3 separate regions of the Homo sapiens genome follow, and all the other regions are linked to region 3. The links come from fine-mapping of genetic effects on gene expression. A gene starts in region 3. Each other region holds a variant in brackets. All regions are shown on one strand. Distances are from middle to middle. Region 1 overlaps PTK7 (protein tyrosine kinase 7 (inactive)). Region 2 overlaps PTK7 (protein tyrosine kinase 7 (inactive)). Region 3 holds the start of PTK7 (protein tyrosine kinase 7 (inactive)).

Evidence for each region.
Region 1: its variant is fine-mapped to the expression of PTK7 in tibial nerve (GTEx, PIP 0.97).
Region 2: its variant is fine-mapped to the expression of PTK7 in whole blood (TOPMed, PIP above 0.99). The same link has a PIP of 0.9 or more in blood mononuclear cells.

Annotation. Positions count from the first base shown.
Region 1 is chr6:43,098,385-43,103,486 of GRCh38, forward strand. All of the region lies in intron 1 of PTK7 (protein tyrosine kinase 7 (inactive)), which reads left to right. Among named protein-coding and RNA genes, the nearest start is that of PTK7, 25 kb to the left of the region's middle. The variant G/T (reference allele first, on the strand shown) is at 2,248.
Region 2 is chr6:43,139,929-43,145,030 of GRCh38, forward strand. PTK7 (protein tyrosine kinase 7 (inactive)) reads left to right here. Exons shown (of 20, transcript NM_002821.5): 11 at 1,740-1,889; 12 at 2,003-2,153; 13 at 2,244-2,371; 14 at 3,489-3,692; 15 at 4,523-4,678. Among named protein-coding and RNA genes, the nearest start is that of SRF, 29 kb to the right of the region's middle. RefSeq lists an enhancer at 3,498-3,587. The variant T/G (reference allele first, on the strand shown) is at 2,389.
Region 3 is chr6:43,073,626-43,078,727 of GRCh38, forward strand. PTK7 (protein tyrosine kinase 7 (inactive)) reads left to right here and starts at 2,689. Exons shown (of 20, transcript NM_002821.5): 1 at 2,689-2,942. The coding sequence starts at 2,864. It overlaps KLC4 (kinesin light chain 4), which reads left to right. Exons shown (of 16, transcript NM_201521.3): 15 at 277-340; 16 at 997-1,468. The coding sequence ends at 1,047. It overlaps KLC4-AS1 (KLC4 antisense RNA 1), which reads right to left and starts at 2,605. Exons shown (of 2, transcript XR_002956347.1): 1 at 2,070-2,605; 2 at 708-1,642. RefSeq lists an enhancer at 1,824-2,347 and a silencer at 2,677-2,776.

The sequences.
Region 1 (5,102 bases), 25 kb after region 3:
TCGCTCTGTCGCCCAGGCTGGAGTGTAGTGGTGCAATTTCAGCTCACTGCAACCTCTTCCTCCTGGGTTCAAGCAATTCTTCTGCCTCAGCCTCCCAAGTAGCTGGGATTACAGGCGCCTGCCACCATGCCTGGCTAATTTTTGCATTTTTAGTAGAGATGGGGTTTTGCCGTGTTGTCTAGGCTGGTCTCGAACTCCTGACCTCAGGTGATCCACCCGCCTCAGCCTCCCAAAGTGTTAGGATTACAGGAGTGAGCCACCGCGTCCTGCCAAGTCAAGATTTTTTAAAAGTAGTAAACGGTATGCTACTAGAATTGAAAAGCAAGAAATATGCTTTGCAGATCATAAGAGGTGAAGAAACTAAATAAAATCATATTTACAACAAAGGAAGCATTATAATATTAAAATGTGAAACAGATAAAAGCAAAGACAGATATATCAGTCATGATGATAAATTTCAGTGGAATAAGTCTCCAACTGAAATGGAGTTTAGATTGAATAAGAAAGTTTCATGTTCTTTACATAATACAAACCTAAAATAATGGCAAAGTTTGTTTTATTCTTTTTTCTAACTTTAGGCCAATAGATTAATTTATTTTCATTTATTTCAGTCTCATTTTTTAGGAAATAATTTACGATTATTAATTTTCTTTTGAATACAACTTTGAAATTAATAAATTTGAAATTAAAAATATAAAATAGATAAGTCATTTAGGATCCAGTACTTAAAAAAAAAAGGAAAAAAAATGTGACTTTGGCAATTCTAATGTAGAAAAATAAAAGGACAATAGGTAAAACAAAGAAAAAAAAAGAGGCTTTAATTTCATTCATAGCTTCCCAACTATTTTTCCTTTTTTTTTTTTTTTGAGATAGGGTCTCACTCTGTCACCCAGACTGGAGTGCAGTGGCACAATCATGGCTCATTGCAGCCTCGACTTCCCAGACTCAAGCAATCCTCCCACCTCAGCCTCCTGAGTAGCTGGGACTACAGGCAAGCACCACCATGCCTGGCTAATTAAAAAAATTTTTTTATAGAGTCAGGGTATCACCATGTTGCCCAGGCTGGTCTCAAACTCCTGAACTCCAGCAGTCTGCCCAAAGTGATGGGATTACAGCCATGAGCCACTGCGCCTGGCCCACAGCTATTTCTTGAGTACATTCTAGGTACCCAGTAGGTACTAGGGATATAGATAGAGCAGGGAATGGGATGAAAAAATTCACTGTCCCCAGAGAGCTTACCATTTAACAGAGGGCTACCATTTAAGGAAATGTATACTAATAATTAGATTTGTGATCATTGTGATAGGAAAATATTTTAATATTTATCGGGGTTACCATGTTTGGTGCTATGCTAATAAATCTGTGCCAGGGAAATATAATGACTGAAATTTATTAAAGAATCTGGCTGGGGGTGGTGGCTTACACTTGTAATGCCAGCACTTTTGGAGGCCGAGGCAGGCAGATCACTTGAGTGCAGGAGTTCGAGACCAGCTTTTGAGACTCCATCTCTTTTTTTTTCTGAAATGGAGTTTCACTCTTGTTGCCCAGGCTGGAATGCAATGGCACGATTCTCCTGCCTCAGCCTCCCAGGTGTCTGGGATTACAGGCATGTGCCACCACGCTTGGCTAGTTTTTTGTATTTTTAGTAGAGATTTAGGGATTACAGCTGTGAACCACTGCACCTGGCCTGAGACCCTGTCTCTTAAAAAAAAATCATGACTGGGCATAGTGTCTCAGGCCTGTAATCCCAGTACTTTGGGAGGCTGAGACGGGCGGATCACGAGGTCAAGAGATGGAGACCATCCTGGTTAACACAGTGAAACCCCGTCTCTACTAAAAATATGAAAAATTAGCTGGGCGTGGTGGCGGGTGCCTATAGTCCCAGCTACTCAGGAGGCTGAGGCAGGAGAATGGTGTGAACCCAGGAGGCGGAGCCTGCAGTGAGCTGAGATCACACCACTGCACTCCAGCCTGGGTGACAGAGCGAGACTCCATCTCAAAAAAAAAAAAAAATCATTAGGGTTTTTTTAAAAAAAAATGATAGACATTACTACTTGTAACTTTTTTTTTAGTCATATTTGAAAAAGTAGAAAATTGAACTGTAATTTGATTTTTTTCAAAGATGTCTGTTAAATCTGTTTTGATTTTATATGCATTTTTGTCTTTATAGTTTAAAACTGATTTTTTTGGGAATACAGCTGAAGTTCCCAAATACTTTATAGGAGTTTATGAGATATCTTTAATTTG[G/T]CCGTGTCCAATTTATATAATTTCCAAAATACTGCAGATTGTGAACAGGGCATTATACAAGATCACGGGGGAAATCCTATATTCAGAGTACTCTACAAATTTGTGTGTATGTGTTTGTGTGGTTACCAGAGAACTACCAAAAACCAACTGCTTTTTAAATCCTGCTGTGTAGTTCAAGTGTCTTGCCTTGACCAATCTAATGAGTTGATTAGCTGGTCCTTAATACTTAACTAAATGAAAAACTAAGCAGATGTGAAAAAAAAAATTAAAATGACTGGATAGACAGTAACTCTTAAAAACGATTGAAAGATAGTTGTATCACTGGGTGCGGTGGCTCACGCCTGTAATCCCAGCACTTTGGGAGGCCGAGGCGGGCAGATCACTTGAGGTCCAGAGTTCGAGACCAGCCTGATCAACATGGAGAAACCCCGTCTCTACTAAAAATACAAAATTAGCCGGGCATGGTGGCGCATGCCTGTAATCCCAGCTACTCCGGAAGCTTGAACCCGGGAGGCGGAGGTTGCTGTGAGCTGAGATCGCACCATTGCACTCCAGCCTGGGCAACAAGAGCGAAGCTCTGTCTCAAAAAAAAAAAAAGAAAGAAAGAAAGAAAGAGGCTGGGCGCGGTGGAAAGAAAGAGGCTGGGCGCGGTGGCTCACGCCTGTAATCCCAGCACTTTAGGAGGCAGAGGCGGGCGGATCACAAGGTCAGGAGATTGAGACCATCCTGGCTAACATGGTGAAACTCTGTCTCTACTAAAAATACAAAAAATTAGCCGGGCGTGGTGGTGGGCACCTGTAGTCCTAGCTACTCGGGAAGCTGAGGCATGAGAATGGCATGAACCCGGGAGGCAGAGCTGGCAGTGTGCTGAGATTGCGCCACTGCACTCCAGCCTGGGTCACAGAGCAAGACTCCGTCTCAAAAAAAAAAATAAAAAAAAAAAGAAAGATAGTTGTATCAAATAGTTTTGAGGGAAAATTTTGAAAAATGTTGAAGAAGTAGAGCCTGTAAATGCTTTGTAGAGACTGTCACAGAGCCAAGGAACAGATGGACAACAGCCTGTGTGTGTCACAAAGTTGATATAGCTTTGTTCTCAAATGCTGACAGTGCAGAAAACCACACTACTTAGAAACGTTGGTGTAAAAGTCTAATATAGAATACTTGAAAATTAAATCTAACACTATGATAAACGGTAATGTGCCATAAACAAGTAAAGGATGTATTCCCAAAAATGCATGGGTGGCTTACCCTTTATAACTCATCAACATAAGACGTCAGAGGTGGCTGGGCGTGGTGGTTCACGCCTGTAATCCCAGCACTTTGGGAGGCCGAGGCGGGCAGATCATCTGAGGTCAGGAGTTTGAGACCAGCCTGGCCAACATGGTGAGACCCCGTTTCTACTAAAAAAAATACAGAGTGCCACTTGACCCTCTGTGTCTTGCAGTTGATTGGTGTGCTTGCCTCCAACTCTGGAGGTGGGTGGTTCCAGCCCGTTCTTGGGAGCATCTCTTGGCCAGGTGAGGTGGCTCATGCCTGTAATCCCAGCACTTTGGGAGGCCGAGGTGGGCGGATCACCTGAGGTCAGGAGTTTGAGACCAGCCCGACCAATACAGTGAAACCCCATCTCTACTAAAAACCCAAAAATTAGCTGGGCATGGTGGCGGGCGCCTGTAGTCCCAGCTACTTGGGAGGCTTAGACAGGAGAATTGCTTGAACCCGGGAGATGGAGGTTGCAGTGAGCCAAGGCCGTGCCACTGCACTCCAGCTTGGGCAACAGAGCAAGACTCTGTCTCAAAGAAAAAAAAAAATTAGCCGGTTGTGTTGGCGGGTCCCTGTAATACCAGCTACTTGGGAGACTGGGGCAGGAGAATTGCTTAAACCCAGGAAGTGGAGGTTGCGGTGCATTGAGATCCTACCACTGCATTCCAGCCTGGGCAACAGAGCAAGACTTTGTTCCCCCTACCCCACCAAAAAAAAACCAAAAAAAAACAAACCAACCGCAAAGGTGTCACACAATTCTCTCAATAGAGGCAAAAATGACACTAGATATAAATTAACATCCATTTCTGATTAAAAAAACAAACATAGCCATCATTATACTTAAAAATGAAATACAATGCTATTTGCATTAAAATGAAGTTACTAAATTAAAATAATAAAGTCACTACTATTTATTATTATTTTAGCTGAAATAATGCTATAAGAAAGAATATAGCCAGGTGGCGTGTACCCATCGTCCCAGCTAGTTGGGAGGCTGAGGTGGGAGGATTGCAGCTTGGACAACTAAGCAAGACCCTGTCACTTACAGGAAAAAAAAAGACTGAAAGTCTAAATAAAGTTCATGTTTTTTGCAGAGGTACCTTTTTTACATGGGAAACCCAATTATCAACTGAAAAACTACTACAATCAGTGAGAGAACTGAGTCATTTGGGCAAATACAAAACCTACACAAAACCCAGAAGGTTTGCTGCTTATCAGCAAGTAACCATTTAGAAAATACAACAGGAACATTTATCCATTCACAGAATCAATAAAAATAAAAACAAAATGCTCAGGCATAAACCATTATAATGGAAACTGTATTGACAGCACCAGTAAATACCCTTCTCCCTTCTGAGTTTAAAACCAGTCGAAGGGGGTGAAAGAGAGGGAGAAAAACAGACAGACCAGGGATTGGATGATGGAGATCAGAGTATCACTTTTATTTGTTTTAAAGGCTAGGTTGAGCAAGCAACAAGGCTTTAATCTGAAGTGGATAAATGTCTTATTCATCCTTGAGTTAGGCAGACTTACTCCCTTGTCATAGCAGTGCTGGAGTATTACAGGTGTGTGTGTGTGTGTGTGTGTAGCCACCT
Region 2 (5,102 bases), 66 kb after region 3:
CATGGTGAAACCCCATCTCTACTAAAAATGCAAAAGTTAGCCAGGCGTGGTGGCACATGCTTGCAATCCCAGCTGCTTAGGAGGCTGAAGCAGGAGAATCGCTTGAACCCAGGAGGTGGAGGCTGCAGTGGGCCGAGATCATGCCATTGCACCAGAGTCTGGCTGACAGAGTGAGACTCTGACTCAAAAGAAAAAAGAAACAAAAGTTACATGGGCTCCTTTACAAAATACTGGAAGAGGCCGGGCGTGGTGGCTCACGCCTGTAATCCCAGCACTGTGGGAAGCTGAGGTGGGTGGATCACGAGGTCATGAGATAGAGACCATCCTGGCTAACATAGAGTAGTGAAACCTCGTCTCTACTGAAAATACAAAAAATTAGCCAGGGGTGGCGGCACGCATCTGTAGTGCCAGCTACTCGGGAGGCTGAGGTAGGAGAATTGTTTGAACCCAGGAGGCGGAGGTGGCAGTGAGCCGAGATTGTGCCACTGCACTTCAGCCTGGGTGGCAGAGCGAGACTCCATCTCAAAAAAAAAAAAAAAAATATTGGGAGAAAAAATGTACAGTCCTGCCGTTTATCATCTTTGGGTGTATGTCTTCTTTTTCTGTGCATATGTTTTTCTTTTTTTACCTAGCAGTTTTATTGTATATATAGTTTCAGTTATTAAATTTACATGATTGGCTGAGTGTGGTAGCTCATGCCTGTAATCCCAGCACTTTGGGAGGCCGAGGTGGGAGGATCGCTTGAGCCCAGGAGTTCAAGACCAACCTGGGCAATACAGGGAGACCCTGTCTGTACAAAAAATTTAAAAATTAGCCAGGCATGGTGGTGCATGCCTGTAGACATGCTTATTGTAGAATTAGACAATACAGATAACTATGTAGTTTTTAAAAATATTTTTTAAAATTATTTATTTTTATTTTTTTTGTAACGGTGTAATTTTATACCCTTTTTTACTTACCATTGTCAAGCATTTCCCCACATCTTTATACACTCTTCATGAATATTTGTTTTGATGATCCTAATAATATTTCAACAATTGGATTCACTGTAATTTACTTAACTGTTCCTTAAATGTTGGAGATTTGGGTTGTTAACCAGCCACCCACCCACCCCCTTTTTTTTCATTGCTGCAATAAACATCTTTAAGCCAAAGTTTTTTTCTGGATTTAGGTTTATTTCCTTTGGGAAAGATTCCCAGAATTGGGATAATTATGCACGAAAGGGGGTATGAACATTTTTATAGCCCTTGATGTGAGTTGCCAAATTATTTTTTAAAAGGTTGGACCAATTTTGACATTTCCACCTAGAGTGAGAGAGTACAGTTGTAGATTCTGAGGAGGAAGTAGGCTCCCTCTGCTCAGGTCTGGGGGAACTTTCTGGGAGAGGTGAGGCTTAAAATGGATCTACAGCCTGGGATGGTAAAGAGCGGGAATGGGCTCTAGGAGGGAGAAGTGATGGGCAGCGGAGTAGGAACAGGGCCGATCTGGGCCCAAACAGAGTCCGGTTTGGCAGACGTGGAATGTCACACAGGGCAGTAGGAGGAAGAGGTGAGACTGAAGAATTGGAAGAGGGGTAAATAACGGAGGGGCTTCTAACACTTGGCTCAGGAGTTTGGACTTTGCCTGTGGGTGGTCAGGAGCGATGGTGTGTTTTTGAGTAGAGGTGAGGGACTGAAGGCATTGCCAGCTGTCTGTGTAACCCTGATCCTTCCCATAATTTCCCTTTGTTACCCCTGCAGATGGGAGCAGCCTCCCAGAGTGGGTGACAGACAACGCTGGGACCCTGCATTTTGCCCGGGTGACTCGAGATGACGCTGGCAACTACACTTGCATTGCCTCCAACGGGCCGCAGGGCCAGATTCGTGCCCATGTCCAGCTCACTGTGGCAGGTGCGACCGTGGCAGGGCCCTGGGGCTGGGAGGGCCCTCTGGGGTAGCACCGTGTACCCTGCCAGCCCCTTGGCTTACCCCTCCCTGCGCCTCGCTGGTCTCTTTTCTTCCAGTTTTTATCACCTTCAAAGTGGAACCAGAGCGTACGACTGTGTACCAGGGCCACACAGCCCTACTGCAGTGCGAGGCCCAGGGGGACCCCAAGCCGCTGATTCAGTGGAAAGGCAAGGACCGCATCCTGGACCCCACCAAGCTGGGACCCAGGTAGGGCCACCTCTCTCCCACACCCGTCCCTCCTCTCCTGCAGCCCCCCTCCCTGCGAGCTGGCCAGCACTATGGCTTCTCCCCCGACAGGATGCACATCTTCCAGAATGGCTCCCTGGTGATCCATGACGTGGCCCCTGAGGACTCAGGCCGCTACACCTGCATTGCAGGCAACAGCTGCAACATCAAGCACACGGAGGCCCCCCTCTATGTCGTGGGTATGGGCTGGGGAGGG[T/G]TATGCTGCACAGGAAGTGGTGGGCCCAGACGTTTGTCACCTTGTACTCAGCCCCTGTGTACAGAACATGGCACAGAAGCCATTTTTGTGGCAGCGGTGGGGATTCGGCCGTCTCACCATGCTGCTGCACAGTCTTAGAGTCCTTGCTCAGAGCCGGGCTGTCGTTTATTTAACATCCAACGGTCGGTGTGTGTGTGTGTGTGTTGTGGGGGAGTGGGGGGGTGTTCTCTTCCTACAATGCTGCCTCCCAGGTTCCTGCAGCAGCCACACATATCTCTGGGTGGCTGGGGAGGAGGACCAGGTCAGAATGCAGTAGGACAAGGTTCTTTTCTCCAGGAGGCCCAGAGAGGATGATGGGTCAGGTAAAAGGCCCTGCACTTAACTCTCTGCCCCTGGGAGACTTATTTCTCCTCTGGGGACTTGTTTCTGCATCCACAGGTGAAAGTGGTTTAAATGAGAAGCTCTTAAACTTTCTTGGTTTGGCAGCAGAGTTATTTTTCTAGACAAAGTATAATGTGAAAGTTTAAATGGATGAAAATGAACTGAGGAGGCCCCCTTGGTGGGAGCCACTGGGGTGTGTGTGGCAGTTGGGGGATCCTGCATGGTCTCCCTTCATTCCCCTAATGCCTCTTGAGGCCCCTCAGTGTGGGCCATTAAAAGGCCCCTAGACCAGCAGATCCCTTCTACAGATCTGCTTATTGAAAAACCTGCTCTGTGCCAGGCAGTGCCTGGAATTCTAAACCTGAAGCTCCCAAATGCTGCTCTCCGGGGCCTGGCTCACATTATCAAGTCACTTGGGAAGCTTAACAAATAACGTGGGTTTGTGGTAGCTCCTTGACAGGTGTGCTTATCCGTGTCGCCTGTCTTGGCTTCCGATGCAAAGCCAGCTTGGGAACCCCTGGCCTCATCTCCTTCAGAGTCTTCGTTTGACCTTGGTGGGGCATGAGGACCTGCTGGCCCTTGTTAAAGCCAGTGAAGGTGGTGACCCTCCCGGGCCATCTGTTAAGTTGCCCTGTTGATGGGGTTGGGAGGAGTTAGTAGAGAAGCAGGGCTTCTTTTGCTTAGCAGCCCCTGCCCAGACCCATCTGTGTGTCTCTCAGACAAGCCTGTGCCGGAGGAGTCGGAGGGCCCTGGCAGCCCTCCCCCCTACAAGATGATCCAGACCATTGGGTTGTCGGTGGGTGCCGCTGTGGCCTACATCATTGCCGTGCTGGGCCTCATGTTCTACTGCAAGAAGCGCTGCAAAGCCAAGCGGCTGCAGAAGCAGCCCGAGGGCGAGGAGCCAGAGATGGAATGCCTCAACGGTGAGGGGCCCTGGACGGGGAGGTGGTGCCCGTGTGCGGGAGCTGAGCGCCCTCCCGCGGCCACGGAGGGGAGAGCGCCAGCACTCTGGAAACCGAGCGGCTGTTGCTGGGTCCTGGAGCTGGGACTGCCCCACCCCTAGCGGGAAGCCTGGAGTTGGATTCCCAGGGCCTCGTCTTCTGAGCAACCTGGCTTGAGACTTCTTCATTGGAGCCCCTTGGACCAGCTTCCTATGATTCCCTGCTGTTTCCTCCTCCCAGCACAAAACCACAGATATCATTAGTATATGTACACACGTTGCTGTTGCATGTCTTGTCTCCCTCTATGAGTCTAAGAGCTCCCCCAGGGGCAGTCTTTCTGTTTACTTCCCTTCTCCTATCCCCACTTCCTGGACTGGGAGCTCCTTGAGGTCATTGCTGGGTCTCTCCTATCAGCTCAGGTGTTCAGGAGCAGAGGTTGGGTCTCCATTATTGTGATTTTCCCTTTGTGCCTGTTTAGGGCTTTGCCCAATAGGAGGCCCCATGAAAGCAAAAATCCTTATGTGTAGCTATGGTATTAAGGACCAGTGATTCAGATTAGATGTCTGCAGTTGGCTTCATCTCAGAGGTCATAATCAGCTGCATCACTAAGGGGTCATACCCTAGGGGATAGCCATACATCCCCCACCCAGCCCCAGCCCCATTATTTCATCATTTGGGCTTGCCCTTTCATGTGGAGCACTGTGATTGGACCCAAGTTGGCAAGAGTGGAAGACCAGGGGACAGAACAGAAATCCCCATGGTGGCCAGAGTGTCAGGTCTCATCGTGACGCTCTTGTCCTCCTCCTTCCCAGGTGGGCCTTTGCAGAACGGGCAGCCCTCAGCAGAGATCCAAGAAGAAGTGGCCTTGACCAGCTTGGGCTCCGGCCCCGCGGCCACCAACAAACGCCACAGCACAAGTGATAAGATGCACTTCCCACGGTCTAGCCTGCAGCCCATCACCACGCTGGGTATGTTGCCTTGACTACAGCTGCCCCTGCCTAACTACAAGTCACCCGCTGTGTCTTGAGGCTGGGTACGGGCTAGTGTTCTGAAGTCCCTGAAACCTAGAATGTTAGAGGTGGAGGGAAGCATAGGTAGAGATCTAGCCCAGTGTGGCCCCAGAGCCTGTTATTCACTGCCCTTCGTGCAGATTTTGTCATTCCTGTGTACTACCTGTAGTATTATTTACTTGATGTTTTATTTAAATTGACTCTTTAAAAAAAAAAACTAAGTTACCATTGTTCTAGGAAAAAATATGAGAAATCATGGGTTTGTCATAGTTACGTTTTTTCCTAGCATACGTTAAGACATGTTTACCATGAGCCACCAAAAATTCTCATGCGAGTCACCCTTTGGAAAATGCTGAATATTAGTCCCACCCTTTTATTTTGT
Region 3 (5,102 bases):
GACAACAGCGAGACTCCGTCTCAAAAAAAAAAAGAAAAAAAAAAAAGATATGGTAAAGCAGGCAAGTAAAGTAAGCCCTTGCCTCCAACTCCTCTTGGCTCCTGATCTCTGGAGAAGTATCTCGGAGAGAAACAGGGAGGAAGTCAACGGGCCAGCCATGGAGAGAGAGTTTGGGTAGAATGGGTGCCCCAGTGTGGCAGTGCTCAAGAGGCCCACAGCCTTAAGGCCACTCAGGAGGAAGAGAGGAGGCCTCAATTCTTCCGTTTTCCATTGTAGCAGCAACATGAAGCGAGCAGCCTCCTTGAACTATCTGAACCAACCTAGTGCAGCACCCCTCCAGGTGAGAGCAGTGCTTGTGAGCATATTGGTGGGTGAGGAAAAAAGGACAGCCAGTGAGCAAGCCCAGTGGAGTAAGGGAAGAGGGAAGGGAGAGGAGTCATCTGGGATGAAGATGAGCCAGGGGATTGCAGTCATTAAGGAATCAGGCAGATAGCTTGTGGTGAGTGCTGACCACCAAGGGACAGTTTCAGGCCAGACATAGTAGCAAATAAGTTAATAAGGAGGGAAATAGGAATATTCTGTAAACTGGTACTTTGGAATTATGAATAATTTAAGAATTATTTGGAGATACGAATTATTTTTTCATCCTGCAGCCGCCTTAGTAGTAGATGAGAATGGAAAAAGAAAAGTATTAAATAATCCCCATCTGAGAAAACACTAGTGATATTTTAATGGCAAATGACTTCTTGTATCAACACACAAGTATATGCCAGTATTCATGTGGTTCTTCCAGGTAGCTTCTCCACCAGATTGTGGCCTTCTGGAAAACCCTAGCAGAGGCTAAACAAAGTCCCAGGTCCAGAGATAGACTGGTCCAGAGACAGATGTGATCCTAGGTCCAGAGATACACTGTGACCATGGGATGGATGGACTCTAGGAGCCAGTCTTTGGGAGGCCGAGGTCCCTGAGCTGATGGGGTAGTGTTGTCTGTTTCAGGTCTCCCGGGGCCTCAGTGCCAGCACCATGGACCTCTCTTCAAGCAGCTGACATTCAACCCGGCCCCCAGGTCTGCTGGGTCCCCCCACCCCCACAGCCCTCACAGCATTCCCCATTGCTCCTGGCTCTTCCCCACCCCTAGGTGGGACAGTGAAGGGGAGCAGTTTAACCAGAAGATTGCTGCTGCCCTTAGGGTCTCAGCTCCCTCCTCAGGAATCCCTCTTAGGAAGGACCCTCAGGACACCCTCTCTGCACCCTGTGGTCCTCTAGAGTAGCTAGCTCTGAGGCCCCAAGGTGGGTACAAAGCAGGTATGGCCCTCAGAGATGCAGCCTGCTGCTGGCTTTTCAGTCAGAGGGTTGGGGGCTGGCCAGCCAAGCTGCCTTGCCCTGGCCGCTCTTACTCCCTCCCTCTGCTGTCTCACTTCAGGTCCATGTATTTCACTTTTCTTAAATAAAAGAATCAGGTAACCTTTCTGTGACTTGAGTCCTGATTGAAGAGGGTATGAAGCAGGGCTTGTGTTGGGGCCCTTCACAGAAGGTGAGGGGCAGTGATGGATGGAGCAGCAGGAGGAGTGTTGATTCTTGGATCTCTCCTCTCTTCCTCCCGTTGTTTGTATCATCTCCAGCAGGGCCTGTAGGAAGGCATCTGGGGGATGGGGAAGAAGGAGGCTCACAACCCAAGGAGAAGGTGCTGTGGACTGGGTTGTCAGGGACATGTGGTGGCCATGTGGCAGGACCCTGGAGTCCTGGCGCCACTTCTCCTGGCTGTGAGGCCCTCTGTGGCTGCCATTCCTCCTCCCAGCTGCTTGGGGGAAGGGAGGTCTAAACAGGCCTGGGGGGCCCTCCGGAACCAGAGGGGAGACAAGGCACTATCCATCCCCTCTCAGCATATCTTGGAGGCCTGAGCAGCAGCTGGGGCCCATCTTCTAAAGCTTGACTCCTCCTGACCCGCCTCCTACACCCCTTGCTGCTTTCACAACAAAGAAAGAATGTGGGGGTGGTGGCGCTGGGGGTGGGGGTGCCTGGAACAAGGGTTGTGCTGGGCCTCCCCACAGCTGGAGACTTGGCCATACCCTGACACAGCCCAGACTGCCTGGAGATGGACTTGGGATGAATTTGTCAGTTAGCAGACTTCAGCCTGGCTTTCAGAGCCCAGCGTGTTTCTACCTTTGGGTTCAGATTGGTCTACAGCCAAACCAGACCCCAGTCATGCACACTTCAGCCCCTCTCCGGGCTACACAGCATCTTCAGGTTACTTGGGGACATTAAGGACACCCTGCTGTTCTGGGTCTGCCGTTAAGATTTTGGGTTGCTGAAGAGTTGGCGGGGCCCGCCTCTTCCCCTGCCCCCACCTGGAGAATTCTGGGGGAACTGTTGGCCAGAGCCTCCAGGTATGCCCAGAATGGACCATTCTCCCCAGGGTCCACGGAATCGCACAAGTCACTTAGGTTCTCCCGGATCCCTGCAGAGTCGGTGGTGGGTACAGCAAATACTCAGGTCCCCTGCACTTCCCTGAGCCTTGCTCTCTCTATTCTCCATCCCTCTCCAGACCCCTCCCCCTACTGAGCTCCTCCCCGCCTCGGCGAGGAGGGGGCGTCGAGGGGGCGGGGCGCCGTGCGGGGGCCGGAGGGGAGGGGGCGTCGTGGGGCGGGGCTTGGCGGCGGCGGCGGCGGCGCGCGGGGACTCGGAGGTACTGGGCGCGCGCGGCTCCGGCTCGGGACGCCTCGGGACGCCTCGGGGTCGGGCTCCGGCTGCGGCTGCTGCTGCGGCGCCCGCGCTCCGGTGCGCTCCGCCTCCTGTGCCCGCCGCGGAGCGCAGTCTGCGCGCCCGCCGTGCGCCCTCAGCTCCTTTTCCTGAGCCCGCCGCGATGGGAGCTGCGCGGGGATCCCCGGCCAGACCCCGCCGGTTGCCTCTGCTCAGCGTCCTGCTGCTGCCGCTGCTGGGCGGTGAGTACCCGAGAGTTGGGGGCACAGAGCTTGGGAAGCGCGGGAGTCCCGTGGGCAAAAGGCTGCGCCCGGGGCGGTGGGTTTGGGCGGCTGGAACGGCCCTGGAGTAGTGGAGAGGCTCGCTGGGGGTGCAGGCTTGCGGCGGAAGGGCGCAAGGAGCCCGGGTGTCGGGAGGCTGGCGAAGCCTCCAGGGACGCGGTCAGGGTACCCCTCCCACTCGCGCCGCGGGGACGCATTTCCAGCCTCCCTGAGTTTTTCTGGTCTGAGCCGAGAGTTTGCTCGAGAACTGCCGAGAGTTGCTGGCTCTCGGGCCCAGATGGGGAGTTTCTTGTCGGGGGAGAAAAGACCATCCGCACCCACCGTGGGGAGCGCGATGGAGAAAAAGGAATTCCCCACCCCACCCGGCAGGGTCGGCCCAGGTAAGAGTTGCTGGTTTGGGGCCCGATGCCGGACAGACCTGCGGCGCGCAAAGCGCGGAGCTTTGTTACCTACGCCGACCCGACGTTCCCGGCTTCCCTCCTCCGAGTTCCTGGGCAAAGCTGAGACCCCAGATGGCCCTGCGGGTGAGGGCGGAAGAAGGGAAGAGTTAGGGGCCGCCCCCATCCATGGCCTCTAGCTACTGGTCTGGAACCCTGCGCCCACTCCGTGCCAGGGCCGAATCCGGGGATCCGAGGGTCCCAGGCTGTCGCGGTGACTAATGTGTGAAGGCCGCTGCCAAAATCGGGCATGGCCTGGCTGCAAAGGTGCGGACGGGGTTTGTTCTGCTCCTTCCTGGATTTCCATCCTGACTGTCCTCACAGAGGAAAGGAAGTATTTCTAAGGGAAGAAAGGCAAAAAGAGCTCATTCTGGCTTTTCTTGGGGGGGGGCCTTAGCATTTTAACGAGGGTGTGGCCCTCATCACCAGGGCAGACAGCACCGCCCCCCCAACTCCCGCAGCTTTTATTTCCTGGCTTGGTCACACCTAAGAGTCATCACTGAGGTGTTGAAGTGCCTTACAGGAAAGCACCAAGCCACCCGCACATCCCAAATAGCCCGGACTGGAAATAAAGCCCCCGACCCTCCACAACACTCCTTGGTGGTCCTCGAAGCAGCTTTCTCTTGGGGAGCTCTGTCGAGGAGACCTGTCCTAGGTGATCACCTTCCATCTCCTTTGAAGGTGGCAATGGGAAGGGCATGGGTAAGGAATTGCCTTTCTAATATCTTTCTGGCCTGCCAGCTGTGGAGGGGTTTTGGTGCTGGTGGAATCAACATCTCCCCTGCCCCCAGTTGTAAAAGGAGAGGTAAATGTAACCCAGGAAAGAGACCAATCTCCAGGGATTTGGAGGAGGTGTTTCTGGAGTTGCCCCGTTTTTCTTGTGATGTGTGTGGTGGTTATTGCTCGTGGCAGAATCCACATCTGCTCCCAGAGGAAGTATGGAAGTTTTTTTGCACAGCCAGGATGGGGGCCCAGCCATCTGGGCGAGCAGCCCAAGCTCACAGGCCCCCTGGCTGTCCTGGTTGGGTTTTGGTGTGTGGGTCTGCCCAATGAGGCTGCCTTCACTGCTGCTGTTCAGGGTACTAGAGTCAAGGGGAGTTTCTGGTGAAGATGGGGCTCTTGCTCAACAAATGCTGAATTCCTAAATTCCTTCCATGAGAAGATGACTCTGATGTTAATTGACTTAATCTGGTGACTGGTTGGTGTTTAGTGTGTGTGCGCGCGTGTGTGTGGGGGATCCTGTTGGGGGAAGTTAGGGCAGGCTGAGGGCTTAGGACAGGAGGTCTGTAGTCTCCTCAGGGGTGGGGGGATGTCTTGTGCTCAACAAAGGAACATTTTAATGAGAGCCTTAAATCAATTCCACCAAATGTGCCTTGTTGTGGAACCTGTCCATGTGCTGTAAACAATTTCAGTGGAGGCCGAGGCGCCTGCTGTCTTCTAGTGAAATCCTGGGACTCAACCCACCCCCAGACGCATGACTTCAGGGGCAACGGTTTTTTAATAGATCACAGTAGATGTTTGCATCTCATTGTTTAATTGTGTAATTAACTGGAGTTGTAGTGAGATCCCACTGTTAATAAGGCTGGAGTAAGGAACCTAGGCTGGCTAGGTTTGTGGATTAGACCATTTTAAAGTCTGGGTAATTATGCCATAAATGGCAGAGTTACTTTCCAAACTTTGAGAT